Linked DNA regions of Homo sapiens: region 1 is linked to region 2. The links come from fine-mapping of genetic effects on gene expression. A gene starts in region 2. The other region holds a variant in brackets. All regions are shown on one strand. Distances are from middle to middle. Region 1 has its middle 43 kb from the start of LRIF1. Region 2 holds the start of LRIF1 (ligand dependent nuclear receptor interacting factor 1).

Region 1 (5,464 bases), 43 kb after region 2:
CTCCAGAGTAGCTGGGGCTACAGGTGTGCACCACCACACCCGGCTAATTTTTATATTTTTAGTAGAGATGGGGTTTCACCATGTTAGCTGGTCTGGAATTCCTGAACTCAGACAATCCGCCCGCCTCAGCCTCCCAAAGTGCTGGTATTACAGGTGTGAGCCACCCTACCTGGCCAAGTTAGAGTTCTTGAGGTGTGGAAGTTATCCTGGATTATCCAGGTGGGTCCAATGTAATCACAAGAGGAAGAGAAGGAGAGCTTTGACTATGGAGGAGATAAGGCAATGTTACGATGGAAGCAGAGTCTGGAGTGATGTGGCCAAGACCCAAGGAATGCCATAGCCTCTAGAAGCTGAAAGAGGCAAAGAATAGATTCTCCCTTAATGCATGCAGAATGAACAGAAATGCTGAGACTTTGACTTTAACCTTTTAAAACTCATTCTGGGCATCTGATATCCAGAACTATGAGAGAACAAATCTGTGTTGTTTTAAGCCATTAAGTTTGTGGTAATTTGTTACAGTAGCAATAGAAAACAACTACAATGTGTGTTTATTTGAAAACAATTTGTATTATTCATATTGGACGGATAACTTTATATATGGGTTTGTTAGGACAATTTTATTAATCACGTTTCCTAAATCTTCTCTATCTTTACTGATTTTTTTTTACATCTACTTATTCTATTTACCTGTTTTTGTTTTGTGCTGCTATAACAGAATATCTGAAACTAGGTAATTTCTAAAAACAGAAATGTATTTCCCCACAGTTCTGGAGGCTGAGAAGTCCATGATCAAAGCCCCAACATGTGGTGAGGGCCTTCTTGCTGCATCATAACATTGCAGAAGGCACTGATATGAGAGAGGGAAGAAGGCTGAACTCATCCTTTGTAAGGAATCCACTCCCACAATAATGATTTAACTTCCCCAATAATGGCATTAATCAATTCATGAGGGCAGAACCCTCAAATCCTAATCATCTCTTAAAGGTACTACCTCTCTACATATACATCATAGAATACTATGCAGCCATAAAAAAGAACAAGATCATATTTTTTGCCGGGACATGGATAGAGCAGGAGGTTTATCCTTTTCCTTAGCAAACTAACACAGGAACTCAAAACCAAATACCACATGTTCTCACTTATAAGTGGGAGCTAAATGATGACAAGTCATAAACATAAAGAAAGGAACAACAGACACTGAGGTCTACATAAGGTTGTAGGGTGGGAGGAGGGAGAGGAGCAGAAAAGATAATATTGAGTACTGGGCTTAACACCTGGGTGATGGCATAATCTGTACAACAAACCCTCATAACACAAGTTTGTATACCAAACCTTCACATATACCCCTGAAACTAAAATAAAAGCTTTTTTTAAAAAAGGTACCACCTCTCATCACTGTTGTCTTGAGTCTTAAGTTTCTAACACATGAACTTTAGGAGGCACGTCTAAACCATAGCACTATCACTGAAAAAAAGTTTGCTAGACATATCCCACTATAATTATCTACTTGTCTATTTCTCTCTATGGTTCTGTCAGTCATTGCCTTTATAAATTTTGAGACTATATAATTTGACATATAACATTTTTTAAATTGCTATTATTTTGGTGACTTGAAGTGGTCTTTCACTTATAATAATGTTATTTTCCTTAAACTATTATTTTGCCTGATTTTAATAATGCTTTTTTGTTGTATTAGTTAAATTTTGTTTTTATTCAATTTTATGATTTTTAAAAAAGTTGGACCTTTAATTGTTTTACATTTGGTGTTTCCATTGAAATATTTGGATTCACATTTCCATTTTATTTTTTATTGTTTATTAGTCCCAACAGAAAAGTCCTTTCTTGATATTTTTTGACTGAATATGTTTTCCTTTTTAATCATTTCATTTTTTTTCTATTAGTTTAGAAGTTATTCATACTATTTCTGCACTTCACTGGTAACCCAAGCATTGAAAACATGAACACTTAACTACCAAATTCGTAACTTAATTAAAACCTTTACTCACCTACCAGATGATACAAAGCTTTTAGAACACTTTAACTTCATATACACACCTCACAATTCAAATGTTATTGTCTGGGAATTTGAGTAGACCTTTTAAGTATATTTTAAACTTCATAAACATGATTCTGGTTTTGGAAAGTCATGTTCATTTGTACTTGCCCACTTTTTTCCCTCTCTTCATTTATTCTTGCATCTTAGACATTCTCCCTAGGACCACTTTCCCTTTGCCTGAAGTATATCTTTTAGAATTTCTCCTAACTAGATTTTGCTGGTCGTAAATTCTCCCACTTGTCTCAAATTGTTTTTATTTCACTTCAACCTTTTAAATTAATACACTTTATTTATTAGAGCAGTTTTAGGTTCACAGCAAAACGGAGTGGAAAGTACGAATTTTCTATATATGCCTTTTCCCCACCGCATGTACCGCTTCTTCCACTATCGACAGCCCCCATCATAGTGGTGTATTTGTTACAATCAATGAATTTGCACTAACACATCGTTATCACCCCAAAGTCCAGAGTTTAAGATTCACTTTTGGTGTTGTAC[G/A]TTCTATGGGTTTTGACAAATGTTATAATGACACGTATCTACCATTGTAGTATTATAAGAAATAATCTCACTGCCATAAAAAATCCTCTGTGCTCTGCCTATTTATTTCTCCCTCCCCACTTAACCCCTGGTAACTACTGATCCTTTTATTGTCACCATTGTTTTGCCTTTTCCAGAATGTCTCATAGCTGGAATCATACATTAGGTAGCCTTCACATTGGCTTATTTCACTTAGTAATATGCATTTAGGGTTCCTTCATGTCTTTTTGTAGCTTGGTAATTTTTTTTAGCATTGAATAATATTCTATTGTCTGGATGTACCACAGTTTGTCCATTCATCTACTGAAGTATGTCTTAGTTGCTCTCAAGTTTTGGCAATTATTAATAAAGTTGTTATAAACATCTATATGCAGGTTTCTGTATGAACATAGGTTTTCAATTCTTTTGGGTAAACACCAAAGAGAGCATGATTGCTGGATCATGCGGTAAGAGCATGCTCAGTTTTGCAAGACTATATTCCAAAGTGGGTGTACTTTTTTATTACCACCAGCCACTAGTGAATGAGAGACTTCTGGTTGTTTCACATCCTCCAAGCATTTGATGGTGTCTGCATTTTGGATTTGGGCCATTCTATTGGATATGTATTATATCTCATTGTCTTAGTTTGCAATTTCCTAATGACATATGATGTTGAACATCTTTTTATATGTTTATTTGTCATCTGTATATCTTCTTTGATGAGATGCCTGTTCAGATCTTTTGCCTAAGTTTTAATTAGGTGGCTCATTTTCTTATTGTTCAGTTTTAAGAGTTCTTGGGTTATTTTGGATAACGACCCTTTGTCAGATGTGCCTGCAAATATTTTCTCCTAGTCTGTGGCTTGCCTTCTAATTCTCTTTTTATTATTTTCATTTTGAAAGACATTTTCATTGAGCATAGAATTCTAATTTGGCAGTTATTTTTCTTTAGCTTTGAAGTTATCATACTACTGATTTTAGCCTCCAGAAAAGTTTAGCCAATTTACCACTTTTTGGAAGATAATCTTTTTTTTGTTTGGAGGTTGTATTAGTTAGGGTTCCCTAGAGGGACGGAACTAATAGGATAGATAGATAGATATAAAGGGGAGTTTAATAAGTATTAACTTACACGATCACAAGTTCCCACAATAGGCTGTCTGCAAGCTTGAGGAGCAAGAGAGTCCAAACTTCAAAACTGAAGAACTAGGAGTCCGATGTTTGAGGGCAGGAAGCATCCAGCACAGGAGAAAGATGCAGGCTGGAAGACTAGGCCAGTCACACCTTTTCGAGTTTTTCTGCCAGCTTTATATTCGCTGGCAGCTGATTAGATTGTGCCCACCAGATTAAAGGTGGGTCTGCCTTCCCCAGCCCAGTGACTCAAGTGTTAATCTCCTTTGGCAACACCCTCACAGACACACCCAGGAACAATACTTTGCATCCTTCAATCCAATCAAGTTGACACTCAGTATTAACCATCACAGATGTTTTAAGGATTTTTCTCATTGACTTTGGTTTTCTAGTTTCACTCTGTTGTGCCATTTACTTTGTCAGGTACTTGTAGGTACCACTCATAAGAAACCACCTCAAAGTAAATGTATAGCCAGCAATTTTTTGGCTGACCTAAGCTATGTCTAACTCAGGTGTAAACTGGAGGGCCAGGCCGTGGCCCCCACTTCTTATGTCCAGTTTTATATTCCCTAAATATTATGCTCTGTTTGCTGGCAGAGAAACTCCTTCCAACTGGGTGGAGGGAGTGGTTTTTCTTCTGGTTGGCTCTTAATCTGAGTGTGTAGTTCTTTAGTGTCCAGTGTAATGTGTGGAGAAGATCTCCTGTAAGACTCCTTGCCTGGGGAAGTTCTTCCTCTGACTTCTGTACCATGAAGACTCTGAACCAAAGCCCAAGTGTGTGAGGTCTCTAAATGCTCAATACATTTTTGGGTGCTGATGTTTTGCCTATCTTTCTCATAAAATTGGCCTTGGAGTTTTCTCACTGTCTCTTCAAGTTGTCCATTCTTCTAAGGTGATTTTACAAATATTTTATCCCTCATTTCTATTATTTTCAGTGAGATAGTATATCCAAATAACCTCATCACAATTATCAGAAAACTAAATCTCCTGAGTTTTTTTCTTTCATTTTATAATTCTTTGTCATTTATACATAACGTTTAATTAATCTTTGGATTTGATATATCTTTATCAACTATGATACATTTTTAAATGTTTTGTCTATTAGTAATAATGGATTGACTATAAAATAAAATCATTATCATCTATGAGTAATAACAATATTATTTCTCCCTTTCCATTCTTATTTTTTGTTCCTGTCTTACTACACAGTCCTGATCTTCAGGACAGTGCTGAGTATTAGTGACAGCACACAATCTTATCTTGACATCAGTCTCAAAGGGAATGTTCGGCACCTCATCATTAAGCAAGGTGTTTGTTGCAGAGTTTAGGATTTCTTTTGGTTTTGTATGTGTGTGTATTTATGTTTGTGTAGTGGAGGGGAGGTAGGTGTTTTTAGATACCTTTTATAAATTTAAGAAAGTCAATTTTTAAAGTAATTTTGTTAAAAGTTTTTAATTTTAAATTTCATTCAGTGCATTTTGATATATTAAGATAATCTTACATATTTAATCTATCAATGAATTAAATCACATTTAATGATTTTAAAACTAATGTTTTTAATTTCTGAGACAAAATTATTTGAGCATAAAACACCATTTATATGTTGCTGAACAAATTCTGTTAGGATTTTGTTTAGGATTTGTATGTTATGAATAAGATGGTGCTATAATTTTCCTCTCTCATATTGTTCTTTGCAAGTTATAGATCTCAAACTAATCCCAGTCCCTTACCTATATCACCCCTTAGCTGATCTAATTTTTTTCCATAG
Region 2 (5,000 bases):
ATTAGAATCAAGGATTTTGGCTGGGCACAGTAGCTCATGCCTGTAATCCCAGCACGTTTGGAGGCCAAGGCAGACAGATCATTTGCGGTCAGGAGTTAGACACCAGCCTAGCCAACATGGTGAAACCCTGTCTCTATTAAAAATACAAAAAATGAGCCAGGCGTGGTAGTGCGCACCTGTAATCCCAGCTACTCGGGAGACTGAGGCACGAGAATCGCTTGAATCCAGGAGATGGAGATTGCAGTGAGCTGAAATCACGCCACTGTACTCCAGTCTGGGGTGACAGAGTGAGACCCTGTCTAAAAAAGAAAAAGAAAAAAAGAAAAGAAAAAAGAAAAAGAAAAAAAGGAAAAGAATCAAGGATTTTGATCCTTATCATAAGAGCAATGGGGAAACTGATTTTTTTTTTTAATGCAGTGAGATGACACCATCAGATTTGTGTTTCCATATGGTATCTCTGGCTGCAGCATTTACAGGAATACAAGAGTGGATATGAGGCTCACGCCTGTAATCCCATCACTTTGGGAGGCTGAGGCGGGGAGATCAGGAGGTCAGGAGATCGAGTCCATCCTGGCTAACACAGTGAAACCCCATCTCTAATTAAAATACAAAAAATTAGCTGGGTGTGGTGGCGGGCGCCTGTAGTCCCAGCTACTCAGGAGGCTGAGGCAGGAGAATGGCGTGAACCCAGGAGGCGGAGCTTGCAGTGAGCTGAGATTGCCCACTGCACTCCAGCCTGGGTGACAGAGTGAGACTCCCTCTAAAAAAATAAATAAATAAAAAAGGAGTGGATATGAGGGTATCCGTTAAAGCTTTACTAGACCAAGTAAGCTTGCTCTACAGTAGTAGTAATAGAAATATAAAGCAGACTTGTAAGATATTTAGAAGATAAAATCTGCAAAAGTTGGTGAATTGTATATTTTGGAATAAAAAAAGGAAAGTGTTAAGGATGACACTGGGATTTAGGCAACTTTAATGGAAGGAAGTTATTTCTTTCTTTCTTTCTGAGATAGCACTGATAAAAGAAAACGTGTAGTGGGGGGAAGAGAAGCAAGTCATAAGTGTGGTTTTGAACATGTTTCATTTGAAGGGGCTTTTAAAATAGCAAAAAGGATATCTCAACAATTCACTTGAACATCCAGGTATAGATCTCAGAGAAATCAGAACTGGGAACATAAATTTATGAGTCACACGGCAGCATAATGCAGTAGTACATGGTGTGTTTAGCCAGACAACCTGGATTTGGAGCCTGGCTCCATCACTCACAAGCTCTATGACCTCTAAAAATTTGTTCACCCTCTCTGAGCATCAGTTACTTCATCTGCATATAATAATTATTTTATTAGCTGTTAGGAGTAAATTAATTTTGTAAAACACTTAAATCAGTGCCAAGGACATACATGTGTTTGGTGGTAAAATAATGGGTGGAGGTGGTAATTCAATCCAGGAGCATGAATAAAACCACGAATCGAGACAAGACAGTTTGAAAACATAAGAGAATCAGTGATCAAGCTGAAAGGAACTCCCTTGAAAAGGGAGATATCTTCAAAAGAGATTGAGAAGGTGTAGACAAAAAGGTAGGAGCAAAACCAGGAAAGTATATTGCCAATGGCGTCAAGATGAGGGACTAATTAATAGTGCTGCGAGGAAAAATTCTCAAATAGTGTGAGATAAAGAGCATCAACTGCAATGGACAGCTGAATAAATGATTTAATGAATACAATGGATGTTCTGATGCAACTCCCAGATCTCCCTTCAGAAATAAAGGTCTATATGACAATAAGTGATAGTTTCGATGAACGTAGGCTGGAGGAAAGAGTTAAGTAAGTCTAGAGGCAAAGCTTCAGGAAAGAGGAGTAAATGGGAAACCTTCAGAGAAGCAGCAACAATAATCGCTGGCCACAGGCAGGCGTTTTAAGTTTTCTCAGGCCAGAAGTGCATGACTCCAAAAAAGCGCGCCGATGTCTTTTAATGCACTGACGGGAGAGAAAAACGTACGCTAGCGGCGAGCACAGAAGCAGAAAATTTATGATTGACCCCGGAAACATTTTATTTTGCGTAGGTGTCGGGAGAGCTTTCTTTTGCGATTTGTTCCTTGATCCGGAAGAAAAGATAGCAAATATCACTTGCCATTGGATTGCATCATAAGGGTTGGGCTTTAGCGAGCCAGTCACCTTGGCAACCGGACGTGACGACCCCGGAAGACGCCCGACCGAGCTTTGCTCCAGCTATCGGCTTCAGTGGGCGGGGCGGCAGAGCCAGACTGACGCAGTCTTCAGCACTGACCAGGCTCTGTTGGGGGTGGTGCCACCAAGGCCACGCCCCCTGCGCCTGCTCCGGCGGAGTCTGGAGAGTTGTCGTAGGCTCTGAGGGCGGAGACTCACGCCGATTCTCTCTCAGCGTAGGGCTGTGAGGGCGCAGTCCACCGCCAGGAGCCTTCCGGTTTCTGCGCGGTGCGCGACCTCGTCCCGAAGCCTGGGGATACACCCTCTCGAGAGCCCGCTGTCGCCCTCCGTTAAGGTCGAACCCCTCACAGTTGCTGTGGGCAACTCCAGCCCAACATTCCCTCGCTCTGGTTCTCGCCCCATTGGGAAACTCGGCCCCACGCTTCCCACTTTTCTGGATGAGGTGTCCCCTTTCTCCCCACTAAAATGTCAAATAACCTACGGAGGGTCTTCCTGAAACCCGCAGAGGAAAATTCAGGCAACGCCTCGCGTTGGTAAGTACCGGTTTCGAATCCTCCCCACGGCTGCCCCTCTGTCCGTCTTAGGGATGTGGAGTCGGCCGTCGTTTCCGGACGCTGTGTAGTTGAGAGGAGTTGGAGCCCGCAGAGTGCGCCACCCAGGCGGGAAGCGCTTGTCTCCGCGGCGCTTAAAGCCCATAGAGCGCTTTCCTCTGGGAAATGTAAAACCTCTTTAGAGCCTGACACAGCGGCTCCGCGGGACCCCAGCGTCTCAAGTTTAATAGGCGGACCGAGTAGATCTCCACGGGAGATGAAAACCAAGATGGCCGACGCTCTTATGTGACTCAAACCTTCTGGAAGATTCTCACGCACACGCAGAAACGCAGCAGTCAGCACGGATTAGCAAGTGCAGCCCTGGTGGCGCTGGACCTTCAGTGAAAATAGATTTTAATAGTGAGACAGAAAGGGTGTGTGATTGAAGAAAAAGGGCTTTAGAATGAGGAGATCGAATATTTAAAATTTCAAGTAATAGTTTTATGTGAAGAGAGAGAAGTAAGACTGGAGAAATCCTCGTGTAAAGTCAGTCCTTTTGAACAGCCTTTTTGAAGTAGGGTGTAATGAAGTGCCATTTCATTGGCTATTTATATTTGGCATGAGGAGAGTCCAGTATTTCTAAGGAAGATATTCTTGTAAAGTTAGAAAATAGATGATCAGTAACTTAGTTTTTGGGTTTTTTTTTTTAAATTGTATTACAAGGAAATGAATTGGAAACAATGTTAGCTAAAGCAGAATATTTTCACTTGTACTCTCACATGGTTAGTAGATTAAGTGATGAGGAAAAAATAGGGTCTGCAGACTCTAATAAGAAAATGAAGAACTAAGATGCAAAACTCATGGAAGAGGATTTTCGTTTGAAGAAAATCAAGCTACCTGGGGTTAATCTCAACTTTGCTAGTTAGCATTTGTGAGGCCAGGTACCTGTTTCCAGTCTGTAAATAATAGCACTTAGAAATATTTTAAAGATTAGGAGAATGAAATAATGTAAAATACGTCGTGTAGGAAAATAGTAAAGCACAATTTAAATGTTAACTATTACTATTATAAGCATACAACTTTAATTCTGTACAGATTTTAGCCCAGCAGGTAGTTTTCTTTAATTGCAAGTAGAAAACTCCATTGCAATAAAGACCGTAAGTAATGGTGAGTCCTTAAAAGCAATATTATAAAAGGAAATGGTCACTAATAGTAATGAGCCAAAATTCTGTTGAACTGTCAAGATAGAACCATTGTATTTCAAATCATAAAAAGAGCCATTTTTTGGTGTACTTGTGTGTTTTTTTCTTTTTTCTTTTTTTTAATTTTGTGGTGGAAGTTTGGGGGAAGGGGCAGAGAGTGCCCTGTGTACATATGAGAAAGTAGAATTACTTTTTAAATGATTAATTTCTGCAGCCTTATTTTAGTACCTGAATACTTACTGACTTCTGACTTAGCTTAATTTATAGAAAATTTGTTTTAGGATTGCATTTTTAAATACAAAAAGTAAGATAAACAACTTTACTTTGTGTGTGTGTGTGTGTGTGTGTGTGTGTGTGTGTACCCTTAACTCTGTTATCCAGTTTCTAATCCTTTTGGGGATTTGGAGATTTTTAAATTACAAATTACATTCATAAGTCATTTTGAGTTCATTAACTCATTGATTTATGCATTGTTTTTATTATTTTTGAATGTATTTATTTAAATCATTGAGGTTTTACATCATATATTTGGGACATTTACCAGATGACTTTCTGAAGCTTCGACATTTACTTTGGTTAATGGTTGCGTATTTGATTCCATTCTGTTCTGTAAGTAATAAAACATCCAAATATAATTTTGTAAATAATATTAACGGCCCTTGTAGTTTATTGGAAACTTAGTTTTCTTATTTTTCTGGTAACATGTTTGATGGTACTAAATCATTTATTTTTATAACTTAAATGACTATGATTTTCTTATTGTTTGTAGCTTAAATATTTCCTGTTACTGCTTATTTAAAATTTTTCAGTAGCATAATACAGAATTGTATATTGTTGTATATTGTTTGAAGTATCTCTTAATTCATCAGAACATCACATGTAAAACCCAAATTTAATCTTAGAGTACAAAGGAAAAATCTGGAAGATATTTGTGATGGTATGCATTTAATTTATATTGATTTGGGTTTTATTGTCGAAGAATAAAGCAGGAGTCAGAACGCTATAGTGGAAAGAACCTTTTAAGTCATAGAGACTTGGGTTCATATCCTAGCTTACCACTTACTATCAATACAGTTTAAACA

The links. PIP is the estimated chance that this variant, and not a neighbour inherited with it, causes the effect. A credible set is the group of variants that fine-mapping cannot tell apart.
Region 1: its variant is the best candidate, but not a certain one, in a credible set for the expression of LRIF1 in whole blood (INTERVAL, PIP 0.55).

The regions. Positions count from the first base shown.
Region 1 is chr1:110,917,734-110,923,197 of GRCh38, reverse strand. It overlaps a transcript of LRIF1 not described here. Among named protein-coding and RNA genes, the nearest start is that of LRIF1, 43 kb to the left of the region's middle. The variant G/A (reference allele first, on the strand shown) is at 2,552.
Region 2 is chr1:110,961,340-110,966,339 of GRCh38, reverse strand. It overlaps LRIF1 (ligand dependent nuclear receptor interacting factor 1), which reads left to right and starts at 2,418. Exons shown (of 4, transcript NM_018372.4): 1 at 2,418-2,719. The coding sequence starts at 2,652. RefSeq lists enhancers at 2,550-2,759, 2,294-2,830.